Linked DNA regions of Homo sapiens: all the other regions are linked to region 3. Evidence: fine-mapped expression QTL. A gene starts in region 3. Each other region holds a variant in brackets. All regions are shown on one strand. Distances are between the middles of the regions.

Evidence for each region. PIP is the estimated chance that this variant, and not a neighbour inherited with it, causes the effect.
Region 1: its variant is the best candidate, but not a certain one, in a credible set for the expression of CDC123 in whole blood (INTERVAL, PIP 0.50).
Region 2: its variant is the best candidate, but not a certain one, in a credible set for the expression of CDC123 in sun-exposed skin (GTEx, PIP 0.75).

Annotation. Positions count from the first base shown.
Region 1 is chr10:12,256,623-12,261,966 of GRCh38, forward strand. No RefSeq gene overlaps it. Among named protein-coding and RNA genes, the nearest start is that of CDC123, 63 kb to the left of the region's middle. The variant C/A (reference allele first, on the strand shown) is at 3,439.
Region 2 is chr10:12,239,882-12,244,881 of GRCh38, forward strand. The region is part of intron 10 of CDC123 (cell division cycle 123); the gene reads left to right. Among named protein-coding and RNA genes, the nearest start is that of CDC123, 46 kb to the left of the region's middle. The variant G/GTTC (reference allele first, on the strand shown) is at 2,085.
Region 3 is chr10:12,194,197-12,199,196 of GRCh38, forward strand. CDC123 (cell division cycle 123) reads left to right here and starts at 1,992. Exons shown (of 13, transcript NM_006023.3): 1 at 1,992-2,123; 2 at 4,509-4,580. The coding sequence starts at 2,050. It overlaps NUDT5 (nudix hydrolase 5), which reads right to left and starts at 1,695. Exons shown (of 10, transcript NM_014142.4): 1 at 1,574-1,695. RefSeq lists an enhancer at 1,739-2,008.

The DNA of each region.
Region 1 (5,344 bases), 63 kb after region 3:
CTCAATGAGTTTATAGGTATGAGGAGTGAAAAGGACATCATATGGCCACCTCTCATCACCCTTGGTGGCCACAGACTTGTCTTTTTTGAAATCAAAATGAGAATGTCCAAATCAATCTTTTTTTCTGGCCAGCAGGGGGGAAGGGGGGATGGAGTCTTGCTCTCGTAGCCCAGGCTGGGGTGAAATGGCACAATCTTGGCTCACTGCAATCTCCGCCTCCCAGGTTCAAGCAAGTCTCCCATCTCAGCCTCCCTGGTAGCTGAGATTACAGGCACCCGCCACCACGCCCGGCTAATTTTCGTATTTTTAGTAGAAACGGGGTTTCGCCTCCCAAAGTGCTGAGATTATAGGCATAAACCACCGCGCTAGGCCCGAATGAGTCTTAAGAAAGGAGAGACAAAGATCCCAGGGTATGATTTGCTCACTTCTGGATTTTGAATGCAAAATAATGCTCCCCCAAAACTCGAATAATGGGAAGAAGTATGGTCAATCAGTTAAGCAGTTTTGGTTGCAAACAACAGAAACTAACTCTAGTTAATGAAAGCATGTACTGGAAGGATGTGAGGTGCCTCAGGAAATTGGCGCAAAGTGTGTAAGCTCCACAGAGAGAACGGAGACTGGGAAAACTTTGGAGACGCAAAAGACACTATCCCAGGACTTAGCTACTAGAGAGATTCTGCCTTCTGTCCTGATGACACTGGGCTCAAGATTCAGTATCCGGCTGGGTGCCATGGCTCACGCTTGTAATTCCAGCACTTTGGGAGGCCAAGGCGGGTGGATCACCTGAGGTCAGGAGTTTGAGACCAGCCTGGCCATCATGGTGAAACCCCATTTCTACTAAAAATACAAAAATTAGCCATGTGTGGCAGCGGGTGCCTGTAATCCCAGCTACTCGGAAGGCTGAGGCAGGAGAATTGCTTGAACCTGGGAGGCAGAGGTTGCAGTGAGCCGAGATTGCACCATTGCACTCTAGCCTGGGCAACAAGAGTGGAACTCCATCTCAAAAAAAAAAAAATTAAAATTATTTTTTTGTCTCCCAGGCTAGAGTGCAGTGGCATGATTATGACTCATTGCAGCCTCAATTTCCGAGGCTCAAGCTATCTTCCCACCTCAGCCTCCTGAATAGCTGGGACTACGGGAATACACCACCACGCCTGGCTAATTTATTTTTATTTTTAGCAGAAACAAGGTCTTGCCATGTTGCCCAGGCTGGTCTTGAACTCCTGAGCTCCAGCAGATCCTCCTGCCTCAGCTTCCCAAAGTGCTGGGATTACAAGCATGATCCACAACGCCGGGACCCTTCCCAGTGTTCTCTATGATCCTTTCTGCATCTCCATCCAGTACCCTCAGGACCTCACATCTGTCTGTCTGTAATAACCAACCAGTTGGGCTTGCAAACCTGCTTCTATCTTCCTCCTGCCTTTCTTGTTTGATATAGATTCCATATACCCCATGTAATTTCACTCTGATCTGTGTAAACTTATTTTCCACGACCCTTAAAACATCCTCAGCTCCCAGCAAGTCTGCCTTCTCCATGTTCTTTCAATATCCGCGGCATTCCTGCTTGCTGCCTCCCCTCGAAGCTTCCTGCTCACCTGGAATATGAATGCCCTCCTTAAGCTCATCTGTTCATTTAGGCCAGAGATTCTCAGTCTTAGTCGTATATTCTTTTTCTTTTCTTTTTTTTTTTTTAGACGGAGTCTTGCTCTGTCTCCCAGGCTGGAGTGCAGTAGCGCGATCTTGGCTCACTGCAAGCTCCGCCTCCCAGGTTCACGTCATTCTCCTGCCTCAGCCTCCCAAGTAGCTGGGACTACAGGCGCCCGCCACCACACCCGGCTAATTTTTTGTATTTTTAGTAGAGACGGGGTTTCACTGTGTTAGCCAGGATGGTCTCGATCTCCTGACCTCGTTATCCACCTGCCTTGGCCTCCCAAAGTGCTGGGATTACAGGCTTGAGCCACAGCACCCGGCCATATACTCTTTTTCTTTTTCTTTCTTTTTTTTTTTTTTCCACATAGAAACAGGTATGTGCATTGGGTGGGGTGGGGGGGGGGTCTTGCTATGTTGCCCAGGCTGGTCTCAAACTCCTGACCTAAGGATCCTCCCACCTTGGCCTCTCAAAGTGCTGAGATTACAGGCATGAGCCACTGCACCCGGCCCCTAGTTGTGTATTCTAATTACCTGGAGAGTATTTTTTTCTTAATCAATGGAGAATACTCATCCAGACCAATTAAACTGAAATCTCTGGGGCCCAGTAGTTTGTTCTTGTTTTTGTTTTTGTCTTTTGCTTTTGAGAGGGAGTCTCCCCTCTGTTGCCCAGGCTGGAGCATAGTGGTATGATCTCTGCTCACTGCAACCTCTGCCTCCCGGGTTCAAGTGATTCTCCTGCCTCAGCCTCCTGAGTATCTGGGATTATGGGTGCCTGCCACCACACCCGGCTAATTTTTGTATTTTTAGTAGAGATGGAGTTTCACCATGTTGGCAGTGGTTGGCCAGGCTGGTCTCAAACTCCTGACCTCAGGTGATCTGCCTGCCTCGGCCTCCCAAAGTGCTGGGATTACAGGCATGAGCCACCAGCTGGGCCCAGTAGTTTGTTGTTTATGTTTGTTTGTTTGTTTTGAGACAGAGTTTCACTCTTGTTTCCCAGGCTAGAGTGCAATGGTGCAATCTCGGCTCTTCACAACCTCTGCCTCCCGGGTTCAAGCAATTCTCCTGCCTCAGCCTCCTGAGTAGCTGGGATTACAGACATGTGCCACCATACCCGGCTAAATTTTGTATTTTTCAGTAGAGACGGGGTTTCCCCATGTTGGTCAGACTGGTCTCCAACTCGTGACCTCAGGTGATCCGCCTGCCTTGGCCTCCCAAAGTGCTGGAATTACAGGCGTGAGCCACCGCGTCCAGCCAAGGCCCAGTAGTTTTAAACATCCCCCAAATAATTCTAATGTACTGCTAAGGTTTAGAACCCCTATTTAAATATTAGGCCTTATGTGAGCATCTGTTAACCCCTCCTGCTCCTAAGGCCCTCCCAGATCAATGTAGCCACTATACCTTTGTCCTCCTTCTTTGAGCTTCTAGAGAGCTACAGTCCACATTATCAAACCAGCAGCTCGTTACCTGCTTTATTGTATTAATTGCTAGTTGTCTAGGTGTTTGTTTATATGACAAGCTCCTGAGGCAGGAACAAAATGCTTAGATTAATAAGCTTTTCCAGATAATGAAATATAATACAAAATAGATGGAGACACCCTCAAGAGTATTCCAAGTCACTGCGAGCGGGCAGGAGAGAGGAAATTGTCCCCACAAAGTTCATATGTTGAAGTCCTATAACCTTCATACCTGAGAATCTGACTGTGTTTGGAGACAGGCCCTTTACAGAGGTGATGAAGCTAAAATGAGGCCTTCGAAGTGGGTCCTAATCCAATATGAGGGTGTTCTTAT[C/A]AGAAGAGGAAATCTGGACACAAAGACACCAGGGATGCCCAAGCGCAGAGGAAAGGCCACATCCAGGACACAGCAAGAGGGTGGCCATCTGCACACTGTGGAGAGAGACCTCAGAAATGCACCCTGCCGACACCCTGATCTTGGACTTCCAGCCTCCAGAACTGTGAGACAATAAATCATGTTGTTTAAGCCACCCTTAAAACCCTGTCTGTTGTATTTGGTTATGACAGCCCCAGCAAACTAACACATGAAGTAAAGGTGTAGGAAAATTAAAATTATAAGTTTAGGGAAAGTAATCGAAATCATCCTTATGAGCTCTGAGCTAGCAGATGCCATTCGTTAACAGGATCAGAAACCCCTGTAAATTGCCCTCCCAGGCAATACTAGCCTGATGCACTGCTAAATGCCAAATGCATCTTTACAAAGGATATTAGAAACACACAAACCCATGCCCATGCATAGAGCACAGCAGAGGAACACCTATACCTGGCAGACTAGGGTTTTTTGTTTTTTTGTTTTATTGTTTTCAGACAGAGTCTTGCTCTGTTGCCAGGCTGAAGTGCAGTGGCATGATCTCGGCTCACTGCAATCTCTGCCTCCTGGGTTCAAGCAATTCTTGTGCCTCAGCCTCCCGAGTAGCTGGGACTACAGGTGTGTACCACCACAGCCAGCTAGTTTTTGTATTTTTAGCAGAGATGGGGTTTCATCATGTTGGCCAAGCTGATCTCGAACCCCTGGCCTCAGGCAACTCTGCCCTCCTCAGCCTCCCCAAGTGCTGGGATTACAGGTGTGAGCCACCGTGCCCAGCCAGACTGTGGTTTTAAGAGGGCATTTCACATGTGAGAGCTTTAGACACCCCAAAACCTGAGTCTGTCCTGCAAGATAAAGGCACAAAATGATCAGGTGGATGGAACTGCTGCTCTTTATAAAGAGATTTTTAAAATTTCAGTCTGAATTGGGATATAGGAGCTTTTCTAGAATGATAGTATGATAATAAACTTGTCGCAGACACCCTCAAGGTGACTACCAATGAGCCCTTGTATAACCTCTTCCCTGGAGTGCAGGTGAAAACTATGACTTGATTCTAACCAATAGATTATGCTTAGAATCCTTGAAGCCCTGACCTCCTGGGATCAAGCGATCCTCCTGCCTGGGCCTCCCAAAGTGCTGGGATTACAGGTGTGAGCCACCGTACCCGGCCACTACATGGCCTTTGATTTCACTTTTCTCCAGCCCGCCAGCCACATCCCACCTCCGTCTCTCACCTGATTCATGCTGCTGTCTGAGGCTTCTCTGTCTCATCTTTTTTATTTATTTATTTGTCTGAAACAGAGTCTCGCTCTGTTGCCCAGGCTGCTGGAGTGCAGTGGCACAATCTTGGCTCACTGCAGCCTCCACCTCCCGGATTCAAGTGATTCTTCCACCTCAGCCTCTTGAGTAGCTGAGACTTCAGCTACAAACATCCAAACTATGTTAGATGATCATGAGGTGTCACAATAAACTCTCAGGAAAATAATGGGGGAGCCTGAAAGTGACTTTGAGTGTCAGGAAGGTTTCTGACCTCAGCTCTCTGGAAGCCAGGGGTGAGCATAGCTCAAAATATGGGACAGGCTGGGAGCAGTGGCTCACGCCTGTAATCCCAGCACTTTGGGAGGCCGAGGCGGGCAGATCACTTGAGGTCGGGAGTTTGAGACCAGTGTGGCCAACATAGTGAAAACCCATCTCTGCTAAAAATACAAAAATTAGCCGGGCATGGTGGTGTGCACCACCACGCCCAGCTAATTTTTTGTGTGTGTTTTTAGTAGAGAAGGGGTTTCCATGTTGGTCAGGCTGGTCTCAAACTCCTGACCTCAAGTGATCTACCCGCCTCAGCCTCCTAAAGTGCTGGGATTACAGGCATGAGCCA
Region 2 (5,000 bases), 46 kb after region 3:
CTTGTAGTCCCAGCTACTCTGGAGGCTGAGGCGGGAGAATGGCGTGAACCCGGGAGGCGGAGCTTGCAGTGAGCCGAGATCGCGCCACTGCACTCCAGCCTGGGCTACAGAGCGAGACTCCGTCTCAAAAAAAAAAAAAAAAAAATTATTATTATTATTTTTAGTCAACTAAAAGTGACTCAAAGTTTGAGTTACTTTTATCTTTAGACAGAAGAGGATTAGTTTATTTTTTAAATCTTAAAAGTGATGAAAACTTCTGTAAGGAAAAAGTTAAAGTGACTTACTAGTAAAGTTACTTACTGCTGACTTAATGAAGAATTACTAGAGCAGAGATTTCACTGTCCAAGACATGTCATCTTTATTAAGAAGTTTAGGTCACTAAATGCTGTTTGGTGCTGAGTGCTCTTTGACATTGTGAAGAAGCTAGCAGATGCGTTTTCCCGTGTCACCTACACACAAGCAGAATATTTCTCATTCTCTCTCCGTGCTTAGATCAGCCTCATTGTAAGTGAGACAGTCATTTGAATCTGAATCACCTTTGGACATCTTCGAATCATCTTTGGACAAAAAGATATGGCCCATATGATCATGTCCCAGAATAACTGTTAACTGTTCATTTAACTCTTACGTCAAAAGACATCACTATATTTTCACCTCTTTGTCTTCAAAGATGATGGTGTCTGTTAAGAGTTACTAGAAAGAGGGGCTTTAGGCCATTGTTGTGGCTCACGCCTGTATTTTCAGCATTTTGGGAGGCTGAGGTGGGAGGATGGCTTGAGCCCAGGAGTTTGAGATCAGCCTGGGCTTAACATAATGAGACCTCGTCTCTACATAAAAATTAGCCAGGTGTGGTGGTTTGTGCCTGTAGCCCCAGCTACTCCCGGGAGCTGAGTTGGGAGGATCGCTTGAGACTGGGAGGTTGAGGCTGCAGTGAGCCATGATCATACATGTCATGCCTAGCAGTGAACACCAGGTTGTGTCTGGTCTTCTGCAGTCTGCCATGGTGAATAATCCCGTACGTGTGTCATTTCACACGCTGCAGGTGAATCTACAGGGTGAATTCCTAGAAGCGGGATTGCTGGCTCAAAAGTGAAATGTATTTTAATGTTGCAGTTTACCCTCGGTAGAGGTTACACCTGACCAGATCCCCCCAGGAATGCATCACAGTACCTGCAGGCTTCCTCAGAGCTTGCCTTTACAATATAGGGTTACACTCTTCAGGGTTTTTGGGGTTTCGTAGAGAAATGATGTTTCAGTATAATTTCTACTTCTATTTTTCTTAGTAAGTGAGGATGAAGTTTATCTTTTCATATATTTAAGGGTCGTTTCTGTGAACCATTGCTTCATGTCTTTTTCACTTTTTTCTATTGTCTCATTTTCCTCAAAATAGAGGCACTGTTTATGTATTACAGAGATTAGGCCTTTGTCATTAGTCTTTTCCTGTGAACGAGATCACATAGATTATTTGTTTCTTTTCTGGCTTTTGAATTTCAGCCATCATTTTAAAAAATACTTCCCCATGGTTTTTGTCCAGTTCTTTTGTAACTTCTTGTTCTCCATTTCAATATTGGATGTTTGGCTTTTGTTCCTTTGCGTGTTTGGTATGCGATATGGATCCCCCTTAGTCTTTTTGTCTAGCATCAATATATTTATTTTATACTGTCCTTCAGATTGATGATGATTTCCAGAGTTCTTGGGGCTTTAATGCCTGTTGCGTTTACAGACTCTCATCCGGGTTGGTTGTTTCTTTTTTGTTTTGTAAATCAGTTTATTTATTTACTTTGAGTTCATCTTCAGTGAGCTTGTTCTTTTTGTTTGTTCTTTTGTTTGTGAGAATCCCAAAGATCCAAAATTTTGGGTTTTTCATTTGCTTCTACCATGTTCCTCAAAACTCATTCAGAGAAGAACAGTCATTGTGTCCTGCCCTGTCATTAGAACTGTCTCCTCACACTCCCTTTCCTGAGACTGTCGCCTTCTGGAGTTTGTGTCTGAGTTCTGATTCCCTTCCTGTGGCCAGGCTGCTAGGAGACCCTCCCACGGGTTCCCACAGCACTAGAGTTGATAGGCTTAGTTCTGTTCTTCGG[G/GTTC]TTCTTGTTTCTGGCCCCGGGGGATTTCCCGGTCTTTCTCATAATCTCAATTACACTTTTAAACGGCTTGTCGTAGCATGTGTTTCATCCTGTTTGGAACAGCAAGCCTTGAGAGTTACATAGCTGGCTGTATTTCAGGAGCCCTCACATATCTCACACTCCAGCCAAAATAACCTATTCCCGCAACAGGCGGTCGTGGCGTGGCCTCTGTACGTGAGAGCCGTCGTTCTTGTTAAGTGGTCCGCTTTTCCTGCCAACACCACCCTCCTCCCAGGGCATCTCTGTTATCCCTCAGGTGCCCAGGTCCTTTGGGAAGCATTTCCAGCCTTCCCTCGCACATGTAGGCAGGCTCTCCTGTGTGCCTCTCCGCTCTCACAGTTCCCTGTTCTTGCCTCTCTTGAAGCAAAATACCCTGCACATTGCCATTGTTGGATGGCTTTTGGTTCTGTTTTGGGGAAGTGGAGATGTGTGTTCTGCTCAAGCCTGAGCTCTTGGAAGGAGTCGATTTTGTGTTACGATCTTCATGCCCAGTGCCTAACACAGTGTCTGGTCCCTAGAGCTTGATCGGGGCAGGGAGACAGTCAGCTGGTACAAGGACAGTTAGTCCGACTGCTCTTTGCTTATTGGATTGCCTCAAAGCAGAATTAACTTCTCAGGCTGTTTGTGCTTGAGATGTCACATGAAAACATGTTATGGCCGGGCGTGGTGGCTCACACCTGTAATCTCAGCACTTTAGGAGGCTGAGGCAGGCAGGTCACCTGAGATCAGGAGCTCAAGACCAGCCTGGCCAACATGGTGAAACCCCGTCTCTACTAAAAATACAAAAGTTAGTCAGGCACAGTGGCAGGCGCCTGTAATCCCAGCTACTTGGGAGGCTGAGGCAGGAGAACCACTTGAGCCCAGGAGGAGGAGGTTGCAATGAGCTGAGATCGCGCGACTGTACTCCAGCCTGGGCAACAGGGCGAGACTCTGTCTCAAAAAAAAAAAGTTATAAAATCCTGATCCTGATCCTCCTAGTTTATAGAAGTTACAGCTGGGTTTTTTTTAATTTACTTAAACTCTTTTTTTTTGTACTAGAGGATAGCTTCTGAGCTACAGAGTACACTACCAATTAACAGTGGTGGTTTGTTTTCATTTAAAAATGTGTTTTGGGCTGGGTACAGTGGCTCACGCCTGTAATCTCAGCACTTTGGGAGGCCTAGGCGGGCAGATCACCTGAGTTTAAGAATTGGAGACCAGCCTGACCAACATGGTGACACCCCATCTCTACCAAAAATAGAAAATTAGCCAGGCGTGGTGGTGCATACCTGTAGTCCCAGCTACTTAGGAGGTGGAGGCAGGAGAATTGCATGAACCCAGGAAGGGGAAGTTGCAGTGAGCCGAGATCTCACCATTGCACTCCTGCCTGGGCAACAAGAGTGAAAAAAAAAAAAGGAAAAAATGTGGTTTGGTTTTTTGCATTGTGGCATATTCCTATATTAAAAGTGTGATTGTTTAAAAAAAAATGAGTTAGTTTTACTGACTATAAAAAGCCAAGTAGAGGCTGGGCACAGAGGGTCACGCCTGTAATCCCAACACTTTGGGAGGCTGAGGCAGGCAGATCACGAGGTCAGGAGATCGAGACCATCCTGACACAGTGAAACCCTGTCTCTACTAAAAATACAAAAAATTAGCTGGGCGTGATGGCGGACGCCTGTAGTCCCAGCTACTTGGGAGGCTGAGGCAGGAGAATCACTTGAACTCGGGAGGCGGAGGTTGTAGTGAGCAGAGATCGCACCACTGCACTCCAGCCTGAGTGACAGAGCGAGACTCCATCTCAAAAAAAAAAAAAAAGAAAGTCAAGTAGAAAAGATTTGGAGGTTAGAAAATGTCCATTTTGTATCATGACATATATTGAAGACATCTTAGCAGTATTCTCCAAAATAAAGTTGACATCATTACCAAGAAGTTGTTTGACGGCTGATACTGTTTCACATAGTTCCAGGAATGAAGAAGTGGGTGCCAAATGGAGGTGAGGAAACAACTCAAGCGGTGAGAAATTTGCAGGGCCTCTCCTGGGGCTTGTATAAAATGAGGAACTTACCTAAATGGGTTGTGCTGAAAACATCCTGCGAAAACATCCTGCGACAGGCCTGTGCCACTTAACTGGAGGTTCTGGTATTTGAAGCAAGTCCTAATTAGATGTTGCATCTTTCTTAACAGTTTGCTCTCGCTCAGCTGAGAAACAGTGCCAGATATTAGGCATGCTGGCTCAGCGGTCTTGTTGCTTGGAATTTCACAGACACACACCCGCTCAGGACATGGCGGCAACACATTTATAGAAAAAAACAAATTCATTATTAACCAGATGGCACAAATATATGAATGTTTCAGTGAGAAAAGTGAAAAGGAGCAAAGATAAACCTTTCGAGGAAACATCCATCCACTTCGTGTCAATAGGTGTTCGTGATCGGATGCCGTGGCCGTCATTCCTGGCGGCGCAGCCCCTGTGCCCCCGCTCTGTGCGTGTCAGCACTGGCTGTTTTCTGCTCAGAGGCCCCAGCCCTACCTCAGCACAGTGCCCCCAGCTCAAAGGTGACCTTTCCCTGAGGAGAGTCACCAAATTGCCCACCTGTGGTTTCAGAACAGGACAAGGTAGACATTTCTTTCAGAGGTTGGGGTGGTTTTTTTTTTTTCTTTTTTCTTTTTTTTTTTTTTTTACGTCCCCTTCATATGCTGTCAAGCTCTATTGTACAGACGGAACACTTACCACATTCACATAGAAAGAAAACAGCATCTTCAGGCTGGGCACGGTGGCTCATGGGGAGGCCAAGGTGGGAGGACATTTGAGGTTAGGAGTTCGAGACCAGCCTGGCCAACATGGTAAGACCCTGTCTCTAGTAAAAATGCAAAAATTAGCCAAGCATACTGGCGCAT
Region 3 (5,000 bases):
TGTTAAAGTACTGCTCCTCGCAGAAGGGCTATGTTCCCGGGATCTATTCTCTTCCGTACATTCATTCCTATCTTCATTAGAAAACATCTGACCTAAATAAATCCCCCATCGATGCTAACATCTCCTTCCGCGCAATTTTTTACTTTCTAAGTCAAATCAAAACAATTATTTGAGCGACTGCTCCTGTCTGCCATTAAGTCTTTCTGGCACCACCCTCCAGACATATATACAATATTGCTTCTTTCCCTCAAATCAGAAAGGACTGCATAGTTCCGGATCAAGGCATAAATGATGAATCATGACTGTCCATCCCCACCAACATACTCTGCAACATTATAATCTATTTACCTCTGCTTTGAAAATGTATTCTTTAAAGCACTGCTTCCAACTAGCCACTTAGCCAGTAACATTTTTGAGAAAAACAAAACACAACCCAAAACAATGTATATATTCCTGGGGGGAAGAGTTTCTAACTCAAAATACGCAGATAATTGTTTATTATTCTAAGGAACACCCTTCTGAAGAGGCCTGCAGTCGGTGGGGCTGTTTCTAATTTAAAACTACTTAGGTGAACCAGGAAGAATGTACATTTAAGGAGATACTTTTAGACGCAGATGCCTCGCGCAAGCCTAAAGCTCGTGTGGTAAGCGACACGACTAGGGGTTAAAAGCGGCTGGTTGGTAGGCCCGGGGCCGTGGCTCACGCCTTGTAAACCCAGCACTTTGGGAGGCTGAGGCGGGCAGATCACCTAAGGTTAGGAGTTCGAGACCAGCCTGGCAAATATGGTGAAACGCCGTCTCTACTAAAAACACAAAAATTAGCCGGCGTAGTGGCGCGCGCGCGCTCTCAGCTACTCGAGAAGCTAAGGCAGGAGAATCACTTAAACCCAGGAGGCGGAGGTTGCAGTGAGCCAAGATTGCGCCACTGCACTCCAATCTGGGCACAGAGTGAGACTCCGTCTCAAATAAATAAATAAAAGCAGCTAGTTACTTCTCATTCTTTTAACGAAACAAACAAAACTGAACTTTGCTGGGTGACAGGAGTGAAGCAAAGGAAAAAACGATAGTACAAGTTCGATTCGAATTCTTCCAGTCTTATGATTCGATCATCGCAGGAATACTGATAAAAATCTGCGTTTTTTCCAGGTTGACAACTTTTGCGAGGCCAGACTAAACGAATTCAGCGCTCCAAGGAGACTCCTCTTTCCTCTGCTTTCTCACATTTACCTCTCGCCTTTTACCTCCCAAAGTCGAACCCTCCAGGATCGTACAGGCGGTATTCCCTCTACCAAGCATTCTACTCCTCTGCAGATGCTGCAATCTTTACACTGGAACTAACACTTAGCTGTGGTGTTCCCCGCTTTCTTTACTCGGAGTAGCCCAGGCTCTTCCTCTCCAATCCACAATTTCCCTCCAATCCCCAGTTTCCCTCTTGGGCGCCTGGACGCGTGCCCAGCCGCAGCCTGGGAGACACCGCGCGGCTGCACGCACCATGCAGATGTGGTCCCTTTCCCCTTCTTCTTCTCCTCCCCAAAGAGGTTTTGTGCTGTGACTGGCTTGCCCCGGTTACTTACTCCAAGGTGTAGGGGTGAAGAACGGAAGAGGACGAAATAACTAGCTGGAGGCAGCAGTGTCAGCCGATGCCGGTGCCACGGCTCGAAACACCGGCGCCTCTCGCGGTGCTAAAAGGATGGGCGCGCACCCTCCTTCCGGCATCCGTAGAACCCCCGCCTTTGACCTAGCTTCAGGAGATTACTTTCCGGGTCAGCGTGCGTTTAGGGCGAAGACGGAGTTGTAAACTTCTTAAAATTCCTCTCTCGACACTTCGGTAATTCCTCTTTCGAGACTAAAGCTCTTTTTGTATGCGTGTGTGTCAAGCGTATGCCCCGGGATTCTCCTCCGCTTCCTTTTCTCGGTCTTCCTTCTTGCTTTAGGGACCGGAAGAGTCCTTGAACCAAAATAGCTCGGCGGGCACTTCCGGGGCCGGCGCCCAGAGTTCCGGGAGGGTGCAGGCAGGAGAGGGAAAGGCAGCAGCGGCGGCAGCTGGAGGATGAAGAAGGAGCATGTGCTTCACTGCCAGTTCTCCGCGTGGTACCCGTTCTTCCGAGGCGTTACCATCAAGAGGTGAGATGGGAGGGGGTTCGCCCGGTCGACCGGCAAAAGGGAACTGCGACTTCTGAGCGAATCTTACTGCTATCCAAAAAAATGCAGGCCTTCTAGCGACTGCATGGGAGGGAGTGTGTCGAGAGGGAAGTACATCAGCAATTGTCTGCGTCCTGTTGCGAGCCAGCGAGTGTGCTGGCTAGGAGGGTCAGTTGTGGTTTTCAGTGAGGGTCGGAGGCGGGAGGAATAGTGGATTAACCTAGTTTAGGCTTGGGAGTTCACCACCACTACTTTTAGAATGGCCCCAGGCGCAAGGTGATCACTGCCTAAGTGCACTCGGAGAATTAATTGCTTTTCGCCATCACCCCAGAGGATGGAGATTGGGAAGGTGAAAGGATACGTAATTACAGTTAGATACGAGAACAAGTTCACAGATATGTCGTACAGCATGGAGGCTATAGTTAATGACGATATACGTATTCTTGAAAAACGGAGAGTGGATGTTAGTGTTCTCACCACAAAAATAACTATGTTAGGCAATGCATTTGTTAGCTAAATTTATTCCACAGTGTATATATACTTAAAAACATCAGGTAGGCGGCAAGTATTAATATATACAATTTCATCTCTCAGTTTTTTTAAAGGCGTTGATAGAAAATCTGGGCTTTGCACTTAACTGATTTTCTGAGCCAACATTTCAGTAATTGCTGATTCATTATATGATGGTTTCATTCAATAAAGATCGGATATGTACTTGAAAATGTGTAACTGGCTTAGAATGGTTAAAATGTATAAGAAAAGTTTCAAGTTCTTAAATAGTATTGGAATGTGTGGTAGAACCTTAGATTCATTGTACTTAACAATTTCGCTTGTTAGCTTTGTAAGAGTAAAATACTTAGGAAGGCTTATTTGTAATCAGCAAATAGACATATTAAGAAAGAAAATTGAGTGGTTTATGAATAGAATTTAAAATTTTAAAGAGACTTTTAAGTTGCAAAGTTTCGCTTGAAATTGTTTAAAATTTAGTAGATTTTCAAACGTAATAAGATTTGTTAGAAGAAATTAAAAGCCTGAAGAACTAGATTTTTTTTTTTTGAGACAGAGTTTTGTTCTGTCGCCCAAGCTGGAGTGCAGTGGCAGCGATCTTGGCTCACTGCAAGCTTCCCTTCCCGAGTTCACGCCATTCTCCTGCCTCAGCTTCCTGAGTAGCTGGGACTACAGGCGCCCGCCACCACCCCCGGCTAATTTTTTGTATTTTTAGTAGAGGCGGGGTTTTCACCGTGTTAGCCAGGATGGTCTCGATTGCCTGACCTCGTGATCCGCCCGCCTCGGCCTCCCAAAGTGCTGGGATTACAGGTGTGAGCCACCGCGCCCGGCCAGAACTAGATTTTTGAATGTGAAATTGTACCTTTGATAAATCAAATATTTATTTTTAAAACCGAAGTTTTTGCTCTGTCGCCCAAGCTGGAGTGCAGTGGCAGTGATCTTTTATTTATTTAAAAATAAATAAAAATACTTATTTTTAAAACCGAAGTAGCCCATGAATACTCTTTTTTGTGCAAAAAAACCATTTGTAATGTGCCAAAAAAAACTTCTTCCATAAATAAATGAGACATGTTATAAGTCATTGATGTTCTGTTAACTTCGGGAAAGCAGGCTGTAATCTTTTCCACTTTTTGAAGATGTATATGCCTCAAAATCAAAATAATACCAGCACTCTTAGGGATCTGTGGTAGGGCTTTTTGATAATTTATTATTTCAAGGTAAAAAACAAATTATCCCATAAGTTTTTAAGAGACTTCAGGTATGGCTTTGCCATCCTTAATTATGATTACCTGAAACAAATTAAGCTAAAGCATGCCTAGTTTAAGCAGCTTTATATCTCTGGTGATCAGTTGAATAGAAAGCCAGCAAGACACATCCAAAAGTATCATGAATTCTTAGCGGTAGGTGCTCACTGCCAACCCAAGAATGGTTTCCAGATCTTGACTCTACTTCTGCCCTCTATCTTTAGAAGGTGACCAAATGCTAGTCATCTTCTAGTTGGGTTTGCTGCATTTCCTGTGTTGCAGCAAATATCTGCTGGTCTCTGATTTCTTAAAGACACATAAATGTTGTGCTCACTCAGAATCCTTTTGAGCTTGTTGCTTTCATACTGTGATTTCCATCTGGTGGTTTGGATTTGGCTGGTTTTTGTTTACTACAAAGACCATTGTGGCAATAAGATGAACCGCAGTAATCTTATTATTCTGATTTCTTGTCTACTGCTACCAAATGTACATCATTAACATTTTCTACTTTATATTAAAAGAAAGACAATTCCAAAATTAATCAAGTGTAGAGATTTTTCTCTCTGCTTATAGTTGGTCTTTTAAAATGATGCCTTTTTTGGTGTTTTTTTTTTAGTGTCATTCTTCCACTTCCTCAGAATGTGAAGGATTATTTACTCGATGATGGAACTCTGGTGGTTTCAGGAAGGTAAAGTATTTTAGAAAAAAATTTCTTAAACTTTATCATAAAGAAACACATAAAATGAATGAATTAGCTTAGGCACCATTCTTTCCCTTTAGCTCTTTTTCTCTCCTAGCCAAAATGATGTGCTGATCTTTGTCTCATATTCCTTCTCAATGTTCACTTAATATTTTCAACATTAAGTACTTTTCCCTCTAATAATTACAAGTTGTGAAATTGAGCAGTTCCTTTCATCTCTGTCTTTAGAAAACAGTTATGATGACAACTTTTCCTTCTGACGGTAGCAGGGTGGGGGAAGTACATATTAAAATTCTTTGAGATCCTTCAGTTTTGACGATTAAAAATTCACTGTTGCAAACAGGCTTTATCATCTAATTCCTCAACATTTTCTTCCCCACGATTGAACTACCGTGGCCCCCCCTCCAC